Regions from separate parts of the Homo sapiens genome. Here region 2 is linked to region 1. Evidence: fine-mapped expression QTL. A gene starts in region 1. The other region holds a variant in brackets. All regions are shown on one strand. Distances are from middle to middle.

What was found. PIP is the estimated chance that this variant, and not a neighbour inherited with it, causes the effect.
Region 2: its variant is fine-mapped to the expression of ZMYM1 in whole blood (TOPMed, PIP 0.98).

Annotation. Positions count from the first base shown.
Region 1 is chr1:35,076,820-35,082,196 of GRCh38, forward strand. ZMYM1 (zinc finger MYM-type containing 1) reads left to right here and starts at 2,566. Exons shown (of 10, transcript NM_024772.5): 1 at 2,566-2,623. RefSeq lists an enhancer at 2,473-2,991.
Region 2 is chr1:35,120,238-35,125,614 of GRCh38, forward strand. It overlaps the pseudogene EFCAB14P1. Among named protein-coding and RNA genes, the nearest start is that of ZMYM1, 44 kb to the left of the region's middle. RefSeq lists an enhancer at 737-856. The variant A/T (reference allele first, on the strand shown) is at 3,219.

The DNA of each region.
Region 1 (5,377 bases):
TACTTGAGAGGCTGCAGCAGGAGAATCGCTTGAACCCAGGAGGCAGAGGTTGCAGTGAGCCACCAAGATCACGCCATTGCACTCCAGCCAGGGTGACAAGAGCAAAACTCTGTCTCAAAAAAAAAAAAAAAGAAAAGAAAAGAAAAAGAATGAATCAAGCTTCCTATCTCCCAGAGCTCTCCTCCTATTCCTTAGGACTTAATCTTTCAGCCAGTATAAACTATTGAGACTTCAGGGCAAGAAAGACGCATGAAACTTGTGACCTACATCTACTGCTTGAAATATTGGGCCAAATTTTCAGATCTATCACTGGGGGTGGTTGGAATATCACATCTCAAAATTATCACACATCCTTACAATTTTTTATGATATCATGAATCCTACCATTTTTTCAACTCAACTCCCAAGGAAGTTAGTAATGACGATGAAACCACCATTGCAAGATTATGACTGAGACCATGAAGGAGATCTAACCTAATGGACTCCATCTTGGTTCTAACTTTAAACTGTCCTTGTTCCTTCCTGGGCATAGGCTAAACTAACTTTGGGAGGAATTTAGTTTATAGTTTAAAACAAAGACAATAACAGCCCTTTCCCAAAACAAACCTCCTCCTTGCCTGGGGACTAGACTGCCTTTATAAGATTAACAAATTAGCCACAAGATTAGAAATTATGGTTTAGGAGTCATGCAGCTGGAGGCCAAGATTCTGACCCTCCCTAAACTGCTCCTGAGACCAGTGCTTGAGATATTTTGCAGACCCTGCACTTGATGGATCAGCTGGTACCACCCAGATAGATAAACAGGCTCATCTGATCTTGTGGCCCCCACCAGGGAACTAACTCAGCGCATGAGGACAGACAGCTTCAACTTCCCATTATTTCATCTCCTACCTAACCAATCAGCGCTTCTGGCTCACTGGCTTCCCCCCACCCACCAGTTGTCCTTAAAAACTCTGATTCCCAAATGCTCGAGGAGACTGATTTAAATAATAATAAAATTTCAGTCTCCCGCACAGCTGGCTCTGCGTGAATTACTCTTTCTCTATTGCAATTCCCCGTCTTGATAAATGGACTGTGTTTAGGTAGCGGGCAAGGTGAACCCACGGGGCATTTACAATGACATCACTTGCCTTTGGATGCCCACTGAACCAGGACTCATTTCTGGGTTCCAATCTAATCCCAGTCACTGAGTTGCTGTGTAACTTGGGGCAAATTACCTTTATCCTCTTGCCTTCAGCTTTTCCTTTGGTAGGAAGGGAGCATTAGAGGAGAGATCATTTCAGTAAGGTCCTTTCTAATCCTAACAGTCTAAACAGATTATTATGAATATTAGAAGGTAATAATAAATGTTGGAGAAATTAACTTCAGTTACTCGTATAATATTTCAAATTACCAAAGGGTTTATATTAGATTTGAGGCTAATTCCAAAGGATATTTAAGGACCATAGCAGCAAGGATTAGGAGGCCCTTTTGGTCTGGACCTCACCTTCACAAGGGCCTCAAATTTAGATTTTTGAGAATATCTCCTTTAAAAGTAATTGTCAAATATGATTATAATAAGTTCATCATTCAACCTTATATATATATTTTAGAATCCTCTTATGCCTTTAGGAATAGCACAGTTAGTTCGTCCTATACTTTTTTAGGTGTTGAAAGTATTGTCAAAAAACATTTAAAATATGCCATTATTTTTGACATGCAGTTTGGGGTTATTTTAATTTTTTTTTTTTTTTTTTTTTTTTTTTTTGAGACGCAGTCTCTCTCTGTCGCTCAGGCTGAAGTGCAGTGGTACAATCTCAGCTCACTGCAACCTCTGCCTCCTGGCTTCAAGCGATTCTCCTGCCTCAGACTCCCAAGTAGCTGGGATTACAGGCGCCCGCCTCCATGCCCGGCTAATTTCTGTATTTTTAATAGAGACGGGGTTTCACCATGTTGGTCAGGATGGTCTTGAATTCCTGAACTCAAGCAGTCCACCCGCCTCGGCCTCCCAAAGTGCTGGAATTATAGGTGTGACCCACCACACCCAGCCTGGGGTCATTTTAATTTTAACGTACTAATGAAAGAAGTCTGAACTCCCTCCCTACCTCTGAGGATAATTTCCTTTTACTAGGAATTTACTCTGCAACTGGCACTTTGCTAACATTGCCTGTCATATTTTTTTTTTTTGAGTCCAGCTTCTGCAGAAGCCTGCCTAATGTTTACAAACCTACGATGCAGCCACTACAATTATCCCCATTTCAAGGTCGAAGAAATGGAGATTTATAGAAGTTGTCAAATCGCTTACTAGCACACAGCTAATAAGTAGTAAAGCCATCTCTCAAATCCAGGAAATCTAACTGCCCTGCCTGAGCTCTGAGTCAAGGGTCCTACTTTGGCTGCCAGCCAGCGACGACTTCAAGGGTAAGATCCTATGCGGGCCGTAAGGACTCTTCCCCTCCCCCTCTCCCACTTCTTCTATCCCAAAGTCGCTCTTCCCAATTCAGGGAGCTGGGACCACCCTGAGCCAGCGGCCCTGCGCATGCTCAACCGCAGAGCACGACGGGAGAGGGGCGGGGTCGGCGGGGCCGTTTCGCTTCGAAGATTGTTTCAGAAGCGTTGGGCGGGGCGTCCCTGAGAGAAATTAGTAAGCCTCCTCATGCGGCTCTGGTTTCGGTCTTTACTCCTGCGCCTTACTCGAAAGGGGCAGGGTTTCTGCTGTCGGTCGGAGGGAGGATGACGCGCCGGGTCGGGGTTTTAGAGACGGAGCTTTGAGTGCGGATTCCGCCAGATGGGGGTCGGGAACTCCGGGCCAGGCCCTGACGTGGATTGTGTTTGCCGCCTCCTTTAACCTTGCCCTCATAGACTGGGGGGGTTAGTGCTCCCCGCTTCCAGCGATTCTCGCCGCCTCCTGCTCCTGTGTAGTAACTGGGCCTTCAGACTTTAGTCTCGCTCCGCAGCCTCCGTTTCAGAAGCCCCATCACACCTGTATCTCTCCTTCATTGAGCAGTGATTTTTCAAAAGTTTGACTCCTGGCCGGGCGTGGTGCCTCAAGCCTGTAATCCCGACACTTTGGGAGGCCCAGGCGGGCGGATCTCTTGAGGTCAGAAGTTCGAGACCAGCCTGGCCAACATGGCAAAACCCCGTCTCTACTAAAAGTACAAAAATTAGCTGGGCTTGGTGGCAGGCGCCTGTAATCTCAGCTACTCAGGAGGCTGAGGCAGGAGAATCGCTTGAACCGGGAGGCAGAGGTTGCATTTAGTCGAGATCGTGCCACTGCACTCCAGAGCGAGACCCCGTCTCAAAAAAAAAAATGAAATGTTTGCTGAACCCCAAAAGCACAGTTTGAACGCTGCTGATTTACAAGATTAATTTTAAGGTATTTGGTATCAGGGACCTTCCTGACATGACCCATGTCTACTTTTCAAACTTTCCAGTTCCTTCTACTAGCACTCTTGCACTTGTACTTTATCTGCAACAACAGTCCCACTCCTTCTAGTTCCCATATATTTGTGCTTCTTTTTTTTTTTTTTTTTTTGGAGACTGGGTCTCGCTCTTTGGCCCAGGCTGAGTGCAGTGACACGATCACGGCTCACAAGCAGCCTCAGCCTTCCGAGCTTAAGCGATCCTCCCACCTCAGGTTCCAGAGTAGCTGGAACAACAGGTGCTCCCCACTACGCCCAGCTAATTTTTGTATTTTTTGTAGAGACAGGTTATCTTCATGTTGCCTAGGCTGGTCTCGAACTCCTGAATCGAAGCAATCCACCTGCTTGGGCCTCTCAAAGTGCTGGGATTACAGGCTTGAGCCACTGTGCCCGGCTATTTGTGGTTTTGTACATGCTGTCTCTATACCAGGAATATCCGCCATCATTGGTTGGTAGACACTTTAAAACCCAGCTCAAATTTCACCTCCCAGAAGACTGACCGTCTTCTTTTTTCATTTCTTCTCAGTACCTTGTATATACTTACTGGTTGGGACATCCTACTCATCAGTGTAACCCGGTACCAAGGCACTTCGGAAATGATGGCTCTTCATTGCCTGCAGAATTAACCATGGACATTTTAGTTTGGTTTGAAAAACATATAGCCTTCTGCCTCCAGCCTTCCCATCAGGCTAGTAAAAGACCTTGCAGAACTCAGTTGAATAAAATAATTTTTTTTTTTTGAGACAGCATTTCACTCTTGTCTCCCAGACTGGAGTGCAGTAGCGCGATCTCAGCTCACTGCAACCTCCACCTCCAGTTCAAGTGATTCTCCTGCCTCAGCCTCCCAAGTAGCTGGGATTACACCACACCTGGCTAATTTTTGTTTAGTAGAGACAGGGTTTCACCATGTTGGCCAGGCTGGTCTAGAACTCCGACCTCAGCTGATCCACCCTCTCAAAGTGCTGGGATTGCAGACAGGAGCCACCGTGCCCGGCCGAATAAAATAAATCTTAGCAAAGTGTAATGTATAAAGAAGTGGTATAATGCGAAGAAATAAGGGATAGGAGTATATCTGCTTCCAGACTCTGTTTTGTTTTTGCTTGTGTCCATACCACACTATCTTAATTTACTGTAGCTTTATAAGCCCTTCCAACATTTTTTTTTTTTGATATTGTCTTGGTTATGCTAGGCTCTGTATGCACATTGTATATACATTAGAATTACCTTACAAATTCCACAAAAACCCCTGCTGGGATTTTCATCTACAGCTTAATTAGGAGAAAAATTAATATTGACTCTTTCCATCAATGAGCATTTATTTAGATCTTCCTTAATTTCTCTCAGCAATGTTTTGTTTTCACTGTAGAGTTCTTTAATAGCTTTCATTAGATTTATTCCTATATTTGATATTTATGATGCTGCAGAAAATGGTTATTTTTATATTTTTCTGTTCTAGTATAAAGAAATAAAATTGATTTTTTGTTTGTTTGTTTGAGACGGAGTCGCACTGTGTCACCCAGGCTGGAATGCAGTGGCACAATCTCGGCTCACTGTAGCCTCTGACACCCAGGTTCAAGTGATTCTCCTGTTTCAGCCTCCTGAGTAGCTGGGATTACAGGTGCCCACCACCATGCCCAGCTAATTCTTTTGTATTTTTAGTAGATACGGGTTTCACCATGTTAGGCTGGTCTTGAACTCCTGACCTCAGGTAATTCACCCATCTCTGCCTCCCAAATTGCTAGGATGACAGGCGTGAGCCACTGCACCTGGCCAAAATTTATTTTCGAATGTCTTGCTAAGCTTAATAACTTGGAGATTCTTTTGAATTTTCTTTGTATAGAATCATGTCATCCATGAATAATAACAATTTTAACTGCCTTTTCAAAGTTTGTCTTTTATTTTTTCTTGCTTTATTGATCTAACTAGAACTTCTACTACAATGTTGAAGATAAGTGATAAGAAAAATTCTAAAATGC
Region 2 (5,377 bases), 43 kb after region 1:
TATAGACAGAAGTGAGAGAGAAGCAGAGGAAACATCTCAAAGTATTAGGCTATTTTAGTCACTTTCTGAAAATAATAGAACTTCATGAGCCTTGAGGCTAGAAAAGCTATTCTGTCGTGTCTCTCCCAATAAGTACAGGAAAATGCATTTCACGTGAAAGTAAGCAACAGAAAAAGATTATGAAATATAATACAAAATTGCATAGAAAACAGCAAAGTAAATCCCTACCAAACAGGTGAAAATTAACATGATGTTTCAAAACAAGCTAAAAGCGCCTGGGCAACATAGTGAGACCCCGTCTCTGCAAAAAATAAAAAAAGCTGGACGTGGTGGCTCGCACCTGTAGTCCCAGCTACTTAGAAGGCAAACGTGGGAGGATTGCTTGAGCCCAGGAGGTCGAGGCTGTAGTGAGCTGTGACTGTACCACTGCACTCCAGCCTGGATGATAGAGTAAGACACTGTCTCAATAAATAAATTTTTAAAAATATGGGGCCGGAGCGATGGCCTGGGTCTGGAGCCCGCGGCCTCCACCGCCCACAATAACAACAACGTGTAGGGAGCAGCCGCGGCCAGAGCCGGAGCAGGGGCCAGAGTTGCGGCTAGAGTAGGGCCTGCGCGTTTGAGTGACTGAGAGTTGCCCCTGCCTGAGACCTCAAACTCCAGGCGGAAGCGCTATCGGTTGGCTGAGCAGCCGTAGCCCGCCGCACGGCGACCCCCAGGCCCAGACAGCGGGGCGGAGGTCTCGTAGGCGCGGGACTGGCTTCTCTCAGGATGAGCCCTTAGAGCCGGGCTCCGGATCTTTCTCAGCCTCGGGCCCCTTTCACTTTCAGGACAGAGGCCAGAGAACGGTGATCATCACACACCCCAGCCGGCTTCCTGGCCTGGGCATTTTCTCCGCGGCCAAGCAGTGTTGGGGTTGTAGCTGCTGGGAGCTCCCTCCTGCCGCCACCTCTTCTGCTAGGAAGGGACTGACGCGTTCCCACGTTCTTGCTCTGCACCTCCCCACTCTTCCCACTCAAGAATAAGTTTCTCGGCCGGGCGCGGTGGCTCACACCTGTAATCCCAGCACTTTGGGAGGCCGAGGCAGGCGAATCACGAGGTCAGGAGATCGAGACCATACTGGCCAACACAGTGAAACCCCGTCTCTACTAAAAATACAAAAACATTAGCCGGGCGTGGTGGCAGGCGCCTGTAGTCCCAGCTACTCAGGAGGCTGAGGCAGGAGAATGGTGTGAACCAGGGAGGCGGAGCTTGCAGTGAGTGGAGATCGTGCCACTGCACTCCAGCCTGGGCGACAGAGCGAGACTCCGTCTCAAAGAAAAAATAAATAAATAAATAAATAAATAAGTTTCTCTTCCCTCTCCATTGAAAATTCTGCCCCGGAGGTCCAAAACATCTATTTTGTGTGCCCTTCCCCAGCTCCTGGAGCAGCACCCTTAGAAGTATTGCCTACTCATCAGGGCTGAGAATCCTTCATTTTTGACTTGGCTTTTTTCGCCCTTTGGGAGATAAAGGTCCCTTTCCACCCTCTTTACTAACGCTCTGCCCACCAGCCCTTATCCTTGGGGTCATCAGCTCCTTGGCCATTTCTATGTGACTTCCCCCACCCATCTGAGTTCCAGCTTCCTCTGGGCTCCAATCTCCAGTCCCTGGCGGAGTGACTAGGGGGCTCTGGCCCAGGATCCCCAACCCTGGAAGGCAGCTCTAACGCAGGAAGAGAATTGGGCGTCGGGTGCGCACCTGGCAGCTCAGGAGTCGGGGCTCCACTCACCCCACACAAGAAGATGAAAATGCCCAAAGAGCTCAATGTATTGATTGGTTTGGCTGGGGACAGCCAGAGAAAGAAGCCCAAGCAGTCACCGCCTGCTTCGCCCTGAGCCTCCTGACTTAGACTCTGAGTCCAGCTCCAAGGAGGAAGAGGAATTCGGTGTGGTTGGAAATCGCTCTCGCTTTGCCAAGGGAGGCTATTGACGATGCTGCAAGATCTGCTATCCGCTCTGTGGTTTTGTCACCCTCTCTGCCTGTGTTGTGGCCTGTGTTGGCTTGGTGTGGATGCAGGTTGCTCTCAAGGAGGATCTGGATGCCCTCAAGGAAAAATTTCGAACAATGGAATCTAATCAGAAAAGCTCATTCCAGGAAATCCCCAAACTTAATGAAGAACTATTCAGCAAGCAAAAAAAACTTGAGAAGATTGAATCTGGAGAGATGAGTTTGAACAAAGTCTGGATAAACATCACGGAAATGAATAAGCAGTGCAGGGTCGGGTCATGAGTGGCCAGAGCCTATCCTGGCAGCGTAGAGTGCAAAGCGGGAACCAATCCTGGACAGGAAGCCATCCCATCGCAGGGCTTACTCATACACACGCTCACACTCAGACTGGGACCATTTACGCATGCCAACTAACCAAACATGCACAGTTTTGTGATGTGGGAGTACCTGGAGAAAACCCACGCCAACATGGGGAGAACATGCAAACAGACAGTGGCCCGGCCAGGAGTCAGATTTTTTTCTCCTCAATGTTATAACCAAATGACGTTGAACAAAACATTATTCAAGGACCTGCTGTAAATAGGAAAGTTTACTTCTGTCCTAGGGCTTCATCTATGAAGCTGGAAGAGATTGCACTGAAACCCTTTCCATTTCAGCATCAACATGCCTTCAAAGATTCTGGGACTGACTTATGAAGCCAGCCTGATAACAGAGGACTTCTCTGCGAGCACAGGTCCAGAAGCATGGGTGGTGGGAAAGCAGAAACTTGTGTTGTTTCCTAAGGGAGCTCTCTGAGTGGTTTTCTAAAATTAATGTTACACATCTCTGATGGTCTATTCAAGTCAGAGGCATCTGTCCTAAACCAAAATAGGTAGAAAAATAAAAGTATCTGGGCATGGTGGCTCACGCCTGTAATCCCAGCACTTTGGCAGGCCGAGGTGGGCAGATCACCCAAGGTCAGGAGTTTGAGACCAGCCTGGCCAACAGGGCAAAACCCTCATCTACTAAAAATAAAAAAAATTAGCCAGGCCTGGTGGCATGTACCTGTAATCCCAGATACTCCAGAGGCTGAGGCACGAGAATTGCTTGAACCCAGCGGCAGAGTTCGGCAGTGAGCCGAGATCACGCCACTGCACTCCAGCCTGGGTGACAGAGCAAGACTCCATCTCAATTTAAAAAAATTAATTCATTAATTAAAACATAAAAGTAATATTTAACCATAAAAAAAA[A/T]ATTTTTTAAATTGTCCATTTCTCCATCTCAAAAAAATAAAAAATTCTAATTTTCCTTTTGATTCCTCCTTTATGAGTTATTTAAATGTATATTGATTATGAAGGGATACTGAAATCTCCAAACTTAATTATGAACTTCTCTATTTTTCCTGCAGTTCTAGCAGTTTTGGCTTTGTGTATTTTGAATCTTTATTAAGTGTGCAGTGTTTAGAACAGGTATGTCTTTTTGTTTATTTGTTTTTTGAGATGGAGTCTCACTCTATCGCCCACGCTGGAGTGCAGTGGCACAATCTTGGCTCACTGCAACCTCCACCTCCTGGGTTCAAGCGATTCTCCTGCCTCAGCTTCCTGAGTAGCTGGGATTACAGGCACGCACCGTCACGCCCAGCTAAATTTTGTATTTTTAGTAGAGATGGGGTTTCACCATGTTGGCTAGGTTGGTCTCGAACTCCTGACCTCAGGTGATCCACCCACCCACCTCAGCCTCCCAAATGCTGGGATAACAGGCGTGAGCCACTGCGCCCAGCCAACATTATTATTATTATTTGGAGACAGGGTCTTGCTCTATCACCCATCCTGGAGTACAGAGGCATGATCATGGCTCACTGCAGCCTCAACCTTCTGGACTCAAGTGATCCTCCCTTCTCAGCCTCCTATCTAGGTCTATAGGCATGTGCCACCATGCCTGGCTAATTTTTAAACTTTTGTAAAGACGGGGTCTCACTGGGTTGCATCGGCTAGCCTCAAAGTCCTGGCCTCACGTAATCCTCCCACCTTGGCCTCCCAAAACATGGGATTATAGGTATGAGCCACTGTCCCCTATTATAAGGGTACACACCTAATTATTATATTATCAAAATATAAGCCTATTTTAATTTATGTCTATTTTTATATTTAAGGTGGCCTTTATGTAGGTGGCATATGATTGGGTCTTTTTTTATTCAGTATGATCTGACAATCTTTGGTTTTTCATTGGGGTATTTAGACCATTTATATCTAATGTGGCCAGGCATGGTGGCTCATGCCTGTAATCCCAGGACTTCAGGAGGCCAAGGTGGGCAGATCCCTTGAGCTCAGGAGTTCAAGACTGTCCTGGGCAACATAGTGAGATCTAGTCTCTGCAAAAAAAATAAGCAAAAAATTATCTGGGTGTGGTGGCATGCACTGTAGTCCCACCTACTTGGGAGGCTAAGGTGGGAGGGTCGCTTGAGCTTGGGAGGTCAAGGCTGCAGTGAGCCAAGATTGTGTCACTGCACTCCAGCCTGGGTGACAGAGCAAGATGCTGTCCCAAAAAAAAAAATGTGGTTATTAATATGATCAAGTTCAAATCTACCATCTTTTTTTTTTTGAGACGGAGTTTCACTCTTATCACCCAAGCTGGAGTGCAATGGTGTGGTCTCGGCTCACTGCAACCTCTGCCTCAGCCTCCTGAGTAGCTGGGATTATAGGCATGCACCACAAATCCCAGCTAATTTTGTGGTTTTTTAGTAGAGATGGGGTTTCACTATGTTGGCCAGTCTGGACTTGAACTCCTGACCTCAGGTGATCTGCCTGCCTCAGCCTCCCAAAGTGCGAGATTACAGGCGTAAGCCACTGCACCTGGCTCAAATCTACCATTTTACTATTTGTTTTCTATTCGACCAATGTGTCTTTGTTCCCCTTTCTCTCTCTCTCTCTCTCTCTCTTTTTTTTTTTTTTTCCTTTCTGGCCGGGCACGATGGCTCAAGCCTGTAATCCCAGCACTTTCGGAGGCTGAGGCGGGTGGATCATGAGGTCAAGAGATCAAGACCATCCTGGCCAACATGGTGAAACCCCCCGTCTCTACTAAAACTACAAAAAATTAGCTGGGCGTGGTGGCGTGTGCCTGTAGTCCCAGCTACTTGGGAGGCTGAGGCAGGAGAATCACTTGAACCCGGGAGACGGAGGTTGCAGTGAGCTGAGATTGTGGCACTGTACTCCAGCCTAGTGACAGAGCGAGACTCCATCTCCAAAAATAAATAAATATATTTATCGCCTTTCTTATCATTAGTATAACACTTCATTTTGTTTGTTTGTTTGTTTTATAAGTGGTTGCTTTCAGGTATGTAGTATACATATTCACCTTCAATTGATATTACACTACTTCACGTATAGGATGAGACTCCTGTACCAATATACTT